3 linked regions of the Homo sapiens genome follow. The protein of the gene in region 1 purifies or fractionates together with the protein of each later gene. This does not show direct contact. Each region holds a gene or a part of one and is shown in the gene's direction. Other genes may lie near its edges. The genes, in order: NAMPT, OLA1 and PEPD.

Evidence for each region.
Region 2: the proteins of NAMPT (region 1) and OLA1 fractionate together in Homo sapiens (co-fractionation; one large-scale study listed by BioGRID). This does not show direct contact.
Region 3: the proteins of NAMPT (region 1) and PEPD fractionate together in Homo sapiens (co-fractionation; one large-scale study listed by BioGRID). This does not show direct contact.

Annotation. Positions count from the first base shown.
Region 1 is NC_000007.14:106,250,762-106,254,009, reverse strand, and holds part of NAMPT (nicotinamide phosphoribosyltransferase precursor), read left to right. Parts: intron 1-858; coding exon 859-993; intron 994-2,816; coding exon 2,817-2,927; 3' UTR 2,928-3,248.
Region 2 is NC_000002.12:174,241,949-174,245,603, reverse strand, and holds part of OLA1 (obg-like ATPase 1), read left to right. Parts: intron 1-3,655. UniProt on the Homo sapiens protein: Hydrolyzes ATP, and can also hydrolyze GTP with lower efficiency. Has lower affinity for GTP.
Region 3 is NC_000019.10:33,386,360-33,389,685, reverse strand, and holds the end of PEPD (xaa-Pro dipeptidase), read left to right. Parts: intron 1-1,604; coding exon 1,605-1,796; intron 1,797-2,204; coding exon 2,205-2,342; 3' UTR 2,343-2,736; downstream 2,737-3,326. UniProt on the Homo sapiens protein: Dipeptidase that catalyzes the hydrolysis of dipeptides with a prolyl (Xaa-Pro) or hydroxyprolyl residue in the C-terminal position.

The DNA of each region.
Region 1 (3,248 bases):
TCACTGACCAAACTGTTACAGGAAGGTAGAATATGAGGTTTGGATTGTTATACCACAGTCATGTTCTAGTAGCCATAGAACAGCTAGGCAAGTGAACAACAACCCCCCTTGCTTCTTTGTAACGTCTTGAGAGCTGGAGATTCTATAGAGCAAGGGACAGAGGCAGGAGGATGCTAAGAATTAAGAACACCTGAGTTGATTCCCTGCTTCACTCTTTGATCTTTCTTTGGAAAGTTCTGGGATTGACTCATTTGTTGCTGCTTGTTCCACTGCCACTTGTTTCTGTTTCTTTGCTGCCTACCTTTCTGATGTAGAAACACTCTGCTGTCTTCAGGTTCTCTAAGACTTTTGCTTCTGACAATAACAAGGCAAAAGTAAAAAGTACCAAAAGAGGGATACGTTATGAAATAGGAAAGCCTTTACCTTAGTAATACTCTTGTTCCCTCTCCAAAGATTGTGTGTGTGGTTTTGGCGTAGTTGGTATAGTTGGGCTTTTCTTCAACAGCATGTACATGCTGTGCTTACTGTCAGTTTAAAGGCAGTTTGTAATATAAAGAGATACCTTAAGGGTCACATGTTAGAATGCTCACAGACTTCCTACAAATGGAGTATTAGGTGTTCTTCAGTGGCAAAAAGGATATCCAAGATGTCATACTTTTTCTTTATTACAAACGACTATCCTTCAAAACAGGCTAAAGTGTTATGTTTCTGAAAGCCAGATGTGGATTGGTTCAGTTATACCTATTAAGTGCTTAAAACTTAAATGTAAATTATGTATGTGCTTTTTTGTAAGGGAGTGTTTAGACATTTCTGATGATTAGTCTTCTACTTGTCTAACTTTCTTAATTTGGATTTCAGATTAACGTCTTCAAGGACCCAGTTGCTGATCCCAACAAAAGGTCCAAAAAGGGCCGATTATCTTTACATAGGACGCCAGCAGGGAATTTTGTTACACTGGAGGAAGGAAAAGGAGACCTTGAGGAATATGGTCAGGTATGTATCTATGCTGATTGGTTTTTTTAAGCAATAGTAGGTTGGCTCACCAAATTAATAAGAAAGGAGGTTTTTATGTTATTGTTTTTGTGGAAGACAAAGTATTATATTTTATTATAAAATGTCCAATTGCTGACCTGGCCTACCAAAATAAGATACAAAACAAGTGTCTACGTCATAAACACGGGGCCTGTGTATACATAGGGAGAAATATTACGTAAGTATAGTGATTGACAGCAAGTTTGTATACACTTTATCCAAAAGCAAACTATGTTACTTTAATATAAAATGTGAAAACAAGGTGACTTGATTTGGATTACATAATAAATGGTGAAACCTTGATTTAACCAAGTTTTCTGATTCAAATCAACCAAACTAGAAAAATTTACAGTACACTAAAGTAGTTCATATGATCTAATGGTCTTTAGCATACAAAAGTACATTTATATTTGTGAACTCAAGTTAAAAAATTTTTGGTTTTTAAGCCACTTGATCAAAAAAAACTTTAGACAGAACTATTCATGAATATTCATATTATTAGAAAAAAGTACACTAAACATGAGTGCACTATTACTTCCTATTTTGATTCTTTATACTACATCACAATTACTGCTTATAACATGTTACTTTTACATTTATTAAGGTTTTGAGCCAGAATTGAAATAACTTTGTTACCGTTAATGAAAAAATATGTTTGTAAATCAAACTTTTAGAATTAGATCCCTTTATATAGCCTGTTAGGCAATTATTTGAGTAAGCTTTGTGTAACTCTTGTACCTACTAAGATTTTGGCAGATTTAGTTTATCCTAGATGAGCTAAAGTCACTTCAAACTAAAAGTAAAAATCTAAGTGTGATTTTTAAAAGACACTGATTTAAGAGTATGTGAATGATAGTAGAATAAACTAGAAAATAATTCATAATCATCTAGGCAATTTGATTTAAGAGTAGGAACTAGTATTCCCTTAAATTTAAATTTGTGAAAGAAAATGCTACAGCTAAAGCACTGTGGTTTGAAGCAACACAATGACAGAAATATTAGATAATGTCATATGCACCTCAATCTTCAGACTAGGTGGAAAATTGAGATTACTTCTGTGGATTTTTCAGAGAGAAACCAGAAGCAGGTAACTCCTTAGTGAGACAGGAGTGGCTCTACCAGACCCAAAGGGAATTTAATTTCTTCAATCTGTCTTTGCTACTCTTGTATGGATGAAGTGGATTACCTTTGTCATTGACTTTTGGAGTATAAACAGAATCTTTAACCCAGTCACTGTGTGTTAGTCAAGAATGCAATACTTGTTTTTCTTTGTTTCTGTTTTGGGATTGGCTTTTGGCTTTTTGTGGGTTTTCTAGACCCAAATTTAGCACTAGCAAATTTCTTAAACTTCCATTTGATAAGTTTAATCACTGTTGAGTTTGTTGGCCAGGAACAAGGCAGGGTTTACCAGGCTTTTTTGCTGCACACTCACAATGATTACAGTTCTCCCTAGGCACCCAGGCATCTTCCTTCAGCCTGAGGAAAAAAAAGATTGGTCAGCTAGGTTTCTTGGTTTTCCTTTAAGAAAACTGGTTTAAGAATGTAGTATTAAGGTCATTCCTTTTCATAGAAGTTAAATATTTCTACATACCAGGCAACTCAGTGATTGGCCATTTTAGATAGTACCTTGTTCCACTAGCATTTTTTATGCATCAAATCATCTCACAATTTGAACACCATTGGCATCTCTGTATTTGACTGGTTGGTTAGTCTAATTCATCAAACCAGGATTCAGGTATTTTGCTTAATAATGTAATATAATCATGAAATTTCCATTTATGCAGGATCTTCTCCATACTGTCTTCAAGAATGGCAAGGTGACAAAAAGCTATTCATTTGATGAAATAAGAAAAAATGCACAGCTGAATATTGAACTGGAAGCAGCACATCATTAGGCTTTATGACTGGGTGTGTGTTGTGTGTATGTAATACATAATGTTTATTGTACAGATGTGTGGGGTTTGTGTTTTATGATACATTACAGCCAAATTATTTGTTGGTTTATGGACATACTGCCCTTTCATTTTTTTTCTTTTCCAGTGTTTAGGTGATCTCAAATTAGGAAATGCATTTAACCATGTAAAAGATGAGTGCTAAAGTAAGCTTTTTAGGGCCCTTTGCCAATAGGTAGTCATTCAATCTGGTATTGATCTTTTCACAAATAACAGAACTGAGAAACTTTTATATATAACTGATGATCACATAAAACAGATTTG
Region 2 (3,655 bases), on another chromosome or scaffold:
CCTTTTTCATTATTTATCCTTTCACTAACCTTAAAATATAAAACATCTCAAAAGTGATTAGGGTGTACTAATAGGTAGCAGATTCAGTGTGGATTTGTGAAAGTGATCAAGGGTGGCCTTTTAGATTGGTGGCAAGTAGGACAATCATGTTCTTAGGTATTCCGAGGAGCTCCTGTCATAGAGATTCCTCAATGAACAGAGCATGGCGTGACCAAGTGAGGCATGTCTTAAATTCATGTAATGTAAAACATGAGCAAGTGTGGCTGTCCTGATTTCAGTCTTTCCTGGAGCTTGAAGAGGTTTTCATTTTGAAGGGGTTTCCTGCTGTGATATAGTCTGCTTGCAGAGTAAGACTAAGTAGAGAGTTGAAATGTAAGCAAAACAAATAATTAATCAAAATACTGTAGGGTGCTATCAATAAACGTGAAAGCAAGCTATGATCATTATTTATGTTGTGAGCTTTATTGCACTAGTAAGGAAGTTAAGTTTTGAGATATTGACATACTTCTCATTCTAGAATTGTTGCAGTTACTACAACTTGATTTTAAATGGGACTATATTAAAATGGGCCATATTAAGTGTTTTCTGTACATATAGGCAACCCTCTGTATCTGTGGTTTCACATCCTTGGATTCAACCAATCTCAAATCAAAAATATTTTTTTAAAAAATTGGCTGGGCATGGTGATTCATGCCTGTAATCTCAGCACTTTGGGAGGCCGAGGTGGGTGGATCACTTGAGGTCAGGAGCTTGAAACCAGCCTGGCCAACATGGCGAAACCCCATCTCTACTTTAAAAAAACACAACAAAAATTAGCCGGACATGGTGGCAGGAGCCTGTAATTCCAGATACTCGGGAGGCTGGGGCAGGAGAAACAGCTTGAGCCCGGGGGGTGGAGGTTGCAGTGAGCCAAGGTCCCGCCACTGCACCCCAGCCTGGGTGACAGAGCGAGACTCCGTCTCAAAAAAAAAAAATTTTTTTTTAATTAAATAAAAAATGAGAATATAACAGTAAAAAAAATAGTAAACAACTATTTACCTATCATTTACATTGCATTAGGTATTATACTACACCATTGTATATAAGGGACTCAATCTGCTGGAATCTTAGAACCAATCCCCTGCAGCTATGGAGGGACGACCATAGCTTTTTAGTCATAGAGCATAATGAAATTAATGTACGTGGAAGTAACCTAAAAATATTTTATTATTCAGAATAAGTGTGTGTGCTGTTTACACTTTTAAATAAAATGCTTTCCCCTCCCAGTGTCATTGAGGTATACTTCACAAATAGTAAAATTCACTCATTTTAAAGGTACAGTTTAATGAGTTTCGGCAATTGTATTTGGTTGTAAACACTACTTTTTGTAGAATGATCTTACTTCACACAACTGTATCAGGTAGGATTCTTTGTAAGCAACACAATTCTGGCTGTTTTCAGCAGGAAAAAGAGGTTTATTGGAATAAGTGAATTACAATCTGAACAGCCAGGCCTCAAGAGGGATAAGAGCCAAGTGGTGCTGGCAGAAATGGGTCCATGTGGAGCTCAGCCATGTGAATCCCTGGATTTCTGGGTGTTTCTCATTTCCTGTCTCTCCTGTAATTCCAATTCCTGAGTAAGGAAATCCGACCGGACTTGTGTGCTTCTGTATAGATCTACAAGATATAGATTGTGGGAGGGAGACGGTTCTCTAAAGGATGGCCTGCTGATCAAAAGTAAGGACATTCAGTACAAAACCATCTAGAGAATCTCTTGGTTTTTAGCTGGGTGAATAGGAAGGCTTACTTTTTAGTCTGCATAAGGCTGATGACCCAGAAACTTAGAGGTAATATTTATAGCTAATCAGATATTGAACATTTACTATATGCCAATCGCTATTTTGAGTACTTTATATATATTATCTAATTTAATAAGTGGTTTGACATTCCCCTCCATTGCAATTTAAATTCTGTGAAGGTAGGAAGGTACCGATTGTCTCGTTCTTGCTTATTGGTATATTTCTAGTGCCTAGACTGGTGTTAGAAACATAGTAGATATTTAGTAATTATTTGTTAACGGGACACGATGGTGTTAGGAACATAGTAGATATTTAGTAATTATTTGTTAATGGGATACATATTTCCCCTTTGACGGCTGGATGTAGATTTAGTGATAAGGAGACATGTTTTTGTTTTTTGAACAAGATTTTATTCTCTTGCCCAGGCTGGAGTGCGGTGGCATGATCATGGCTCACTGCAGCCTAAATCTCCCGGGCTCAAGCAGTCCCTACTCCTCAGCCTCCTGAATAGCTGGAACTGCAGGCACACAAAACACCGTGCCTGGTTAATTTTTGTATTGTTTGTAGATGGAGTTTCACCATGCTGCCCTGAGGCTGGTTTCACAGCCTGACCAGCGTGGTGAAACCCCATCTCTACTAAAAATACAAAAATTAGCCAGGTGTGGTGGCACGCCCCTGTAATCCCAGCTACTCAGGAGGCTGAGGCAGGAGAATTGCTTCAACCTGGGAGGCGGAGGTATCAGTGAGCTGAGATCGCGCCACTGCACTCTAGCCTGGGTGACAGAGCGAGACTCCATCTGAAAAAAAAAACAACAAAAACACAAAAAAGCCTGTCTCCTTGCCCCGTGTGGTGGCTCACGCCTGCTGGAATTACAGGTGTGAGCCACCGTGCTGGGCAATTAAATGACCTCTTTTAATGAAGTAGAAAGAATATGGAGATTTGGTTTCTAGTTCTGTACTGCTTTTTCTTACCTGAGTGACCCTTTATAAATGAGCTCCTGTTGGAGCAGTGTATTATTGTGGTTGTGAGGCTTAGAGAATATTGGGGGCGAAAGTACGTTTTGATACAGTGTTCCAAACTTCTTTATTTCTGTGAGGGATAGCTCTTCTTGTTGCTATCCACTGCATCAGATGGGATTAGGTTCAATTAAGAGCATCAGAAAACCCCAGATAACCAGTTTTTTTTCTTCATGTAAAAATGTACATTTTGCAGTCATAGCTTGGTATAGTGGACCTGCTTTATGAAGTCCTCAGGAACCCATGCTCCTTTCACTTCACAGCTTGGCAATCCCTAGGATGTGGCCTCATCCTCATGGTCTAGAGCTAGGGTTCCCGAACCTCATGCTGGGGACTGGTACCGATCTGTGGCGTGTGAAGAACCAGGCTGCATGGCAGGAGGCGAGCAGCAGGCGAGTGAGCATTCCCACCTTAGCTCCACCTCCGGTCAGGTCAGCAGCAGCATTCGATTCTCAGAGGAGCGCAGGCCCTGTTGTGAACTGCGCATGCAAGAGATCTAGGTTGCACGCTCCTTATGAGAATCGAACTAATGCCTGATGATCTAAAATGGGGCAGTTTCATCCTGAAACCATCCCCCACACCCTTGGTCCGTGGAAAAATTGGCTTCCATCAGCCAATTCACGGTCCAGTCCCTGGTGCCAAAAAGGTTGGCGGCTGCTGGTCTAAGGTGTTGTGAATTCCAGGCAGCTGGTTATCCGAAGGGTCAGGGGGCCAAACTTGACTAGCAGCCTTTTTCCTGTAAACTGCCATACCATACTTCTGCCAACATCCCTTTGTCCAGAATTTAGTCACAAGAATTTAGTTGCAAGGAAGGCAAGGAAATGTAGTCTTTATTTTGACAGCCACATGTTTGGTTAAAAA
Region 3 (3,326 bases), on another chromosome or scaffold:
CAACCGTGTACCATGGAGCAGCCGGGGTGGGCCCATGGGGATGGAGGGGTGACTGGAAGGAAGGAAACCTGACGTTGGCAGGCCCTTGCTTCCCCCAGGCCCCTGGCTTCGATTGCTGTGGGTGGAGACAGGGACGGACACTTCAGGAATAGCATGAAGGAGAGGGATGGGCGGCGGTGGGGTGGGGGAGCCCAGCACAGGCTTCGGATGACAGGGACGGGAAGGTCCTGGAGCAGAGACCCTGGGACCCCCAGCAGCTTCTGGGCAGGAGACAGGCCCCAGCTCGGTCCACATGCACCTCTCACCTGCGCAGAGGGACTGTCACTCCATACGGTTCCTCAGCCACGGGGCATCCCTGCCCTCCGGCCTCAGCTCCCGGTCAGCGGCCCAGAGGCAAGTGTTGTGGGGCCGGGGCCACACCAGCCAGGCTGTGGTGTCTCCTCATCGCCTCCCGCCTGGCCTGCTCTCTCCAGGTCAGCGTGGCTGTCCCTGCCCTCCGTGGAATCAGTCACAGCCTCTCTGGCCGTGCCCAGCGTGGAGGCCGAGCCAGCCTGTTTCTGGTTACCTTACGTGAACTGCTAATTGGAGTCTGATGTTCTTGGCCCCCAAACAGTCAGAAATGACAGCTCCCGCTCCAGCAGCTGGGCTTCCTGGGGAGGGAGTGCAGCCGGGCAGGGCAGGCTCATCCCCTGACCAGAAAGCATACTCGTGCCCACTGGCTCAGAGGCCCTGGCCGCCGGCCGGATGGTGCCCCGGGGACCTGAGGCGAGCAGGAGCTCTCCTGTAATTCCCAGAGCACCCGCTGCCCTCAGCCAAGCTGAGGCCCCCTCAGCTGTGCCTGTGAGTGGACAAGGCCAGGCTGGGTGTGCACTGGGGCAGTGTGGGGCGCAGACAGGGGCCCCTGCAGGGAGCGGCTCTACCACTGTCCCTCAGGCGTTCTCCAAGGCTGGGGGCTATTTCCCAGGGCCCTGCCGTAAGGCCCCGAGCTCTCCTCTGGGAGCCACACCTGCCAAGCCACGCGCACACGGCACATTTGCACTGGCGCACTAAGGCTGGCAGACCCACCCTGATGACGGCACCTGTCCTCCCTGGACAGTCACACGGAAAATCTGGGCCTCGGCCTAGGGGAGCTGGGACCACGACTTCTGGGGCCAGTTTCTACTTGGGCTGCCTGGAAGGAAAGCTGTGGCCCCAAGGGGCTTCACAGCCGCCTTAAGAGCTTTTTTGGCTTCAGTGGTTTGGCATCTGCCACTCCTCTGGCCAGCAGCGGGGCCTGGCTAAGGGCAGCCCAACCCTCAGCCAGCCCCACAGGCCTGTCTGGGCAGCTTGCCCCGGGTGTGTGCACATGGGTGGCCACAGGGCTTCTCAAGCAAGCCCTAGGGTAGTGTGGCCAGGGACACTCAAGATCCAGGGGTATGTGCAGGGTGGAAGGTCTTATCAGGGTGCCCATGGCCCAGCACAGCAGGGGCGAGTCTAGGCTGAGGACCCCAATGGTCAAGAGAGCCCACGAGACTGGCACCGGCCCTCACATGCCCATCTCTCCTGATGAGGCCACGGTGAGCCCTGGAGCTGCTCATCAGGCCCCTCACCTCTGTTCCCCACAGGGCGTGGAGCGCATCGACGAGCCCGGCCTGCGGAGCCTGCGCACTGCACGGCACCTGCAGCCAGGCATGGTGCTCACCGTGGAGCCGGGCATCTACTTCATCGACCACCTCCTGGATGAGGCCCTGGCGGACCCGGCCCGCGCCTCCTTCCTTAACCGCGAGGTCCTGCAGCGCTTTCGCGGTTTTGGCGGGGTGAGTGCCCACGGGCCCCATTCTTGCTCCCAGAACATCTGCCACCTCCACTGCAGCTGCAGACTCCTTAGTCCCAAGACAGGGGCCCTAGTGACATCTTCCCTTGAGGTGGGCTTAGCCTGCCCCTTCGTGTGGTCTGTCACAGGATGGAGCCTCACCCCTCAGTAGGAACAGACAGAGATCCTGCAAAACCCCTGCCCGCTCCAGGGGCTCCCATCCACCTGGCAAAGACAGGGTGAGCAGGTGACATGGGCAGATGGCTCCATGAAGGAGCCCGGAGGCCACCCGTCTCCCAGGGAGTGTCAGCTGCTCCCATCCCATGGTGGGGTGGGCCTGGAATGGGCCCGGCCCTCTAGCCTGGCACATGAGGCTGCTCTATGATAATGTGTGTCTGTCGGCTTGACCCAGGTCCGCATCGAGGAGGACGTCGTGGTGACTGACAGCGGCATAGAGCTGCTGACCTGCGTGCCCCGCACTGTGGAAGAGATTGAAGCATGCATGGCAGGCTGTGACAAGGCCTTTACCCCCTTCTCTGGCCCCAAGTAGAGCCAGCCAGAAATCCCAGCGCACCTGGGGGCCTGGCCTTGCAACCTCTTTTCGTGATGGGCAGCCTGCTGGTCAGCACTCCAGTAGCGAGAGACGGCACCCAGAATCAGATCCCAGCTTCGGCATTTGATCAGACCAAACAGTGCTGTTTCCCGGGGAGGAAACACTTTTTTAATTACCCTTTTGCAGGCTCCCACCTTTAATCTGTTTTATACCTTGCTTATTAAATGAGCGACTTAAAATGATTGAAAATAATGCTGTTCTTTAGTAGCAACTAAAATGTGTCTTGCTGTCATTTATATTCCTTTTCCCAGGAAAGAAGCATTTCTGATACTTTCTGTCAAAAATCAATATGCAGAATGGCATTTGCAATAAAAGGTTTCCTAAAATGGTCCTTTGTGCGTGGCTTCCCCTTTATTCCTTTGCAGATGAGCATTTGGGACCCCGTGCACCCTGAAAAGATGGCTCACCTGGTGTCAGTATCAAGTCAGTTCCAGGAAGATGGTGCTGGCAGCACAGGCCCTCTAACGGCTGCTTCTGCCTCAGACTGGCCTGGCGGGACAAGGGCAGAGTCCTCCCCGAGGAGCCTGCTTTGAGCCCCTGGGACTCGGGGCTCTGGTGTCACCCTGTCACTTGCTGCAAGGTTTCCCAAGCCTAACAGGCATCAGAACCACTGGGGCATTTGGTAAGAGATTCCTGGGACCCCCACAGACCATCTGACCCAACGTCTAGGGGCAATGGCCCAGGAATTGTGTATTTCACAAGCGCCCGCCAGATGCTCCTGACAGACAAGTGTGAGAAGTACTCCTAGGCAAGGTGGTTTTAGCTTGTCAGTACCAGCGCAGCCCGAGGTTTGAGGTGGGGCAAGCAACGCTGCAGGAAGATCCTAGGCACTCAGGTCAGACTGGCCAAGTCACCCCGCGCCATGCCTTTGCGCAAGTTAAAGGGCGGACTGATTTAACACAAGTCTTTCTGATACGGTCA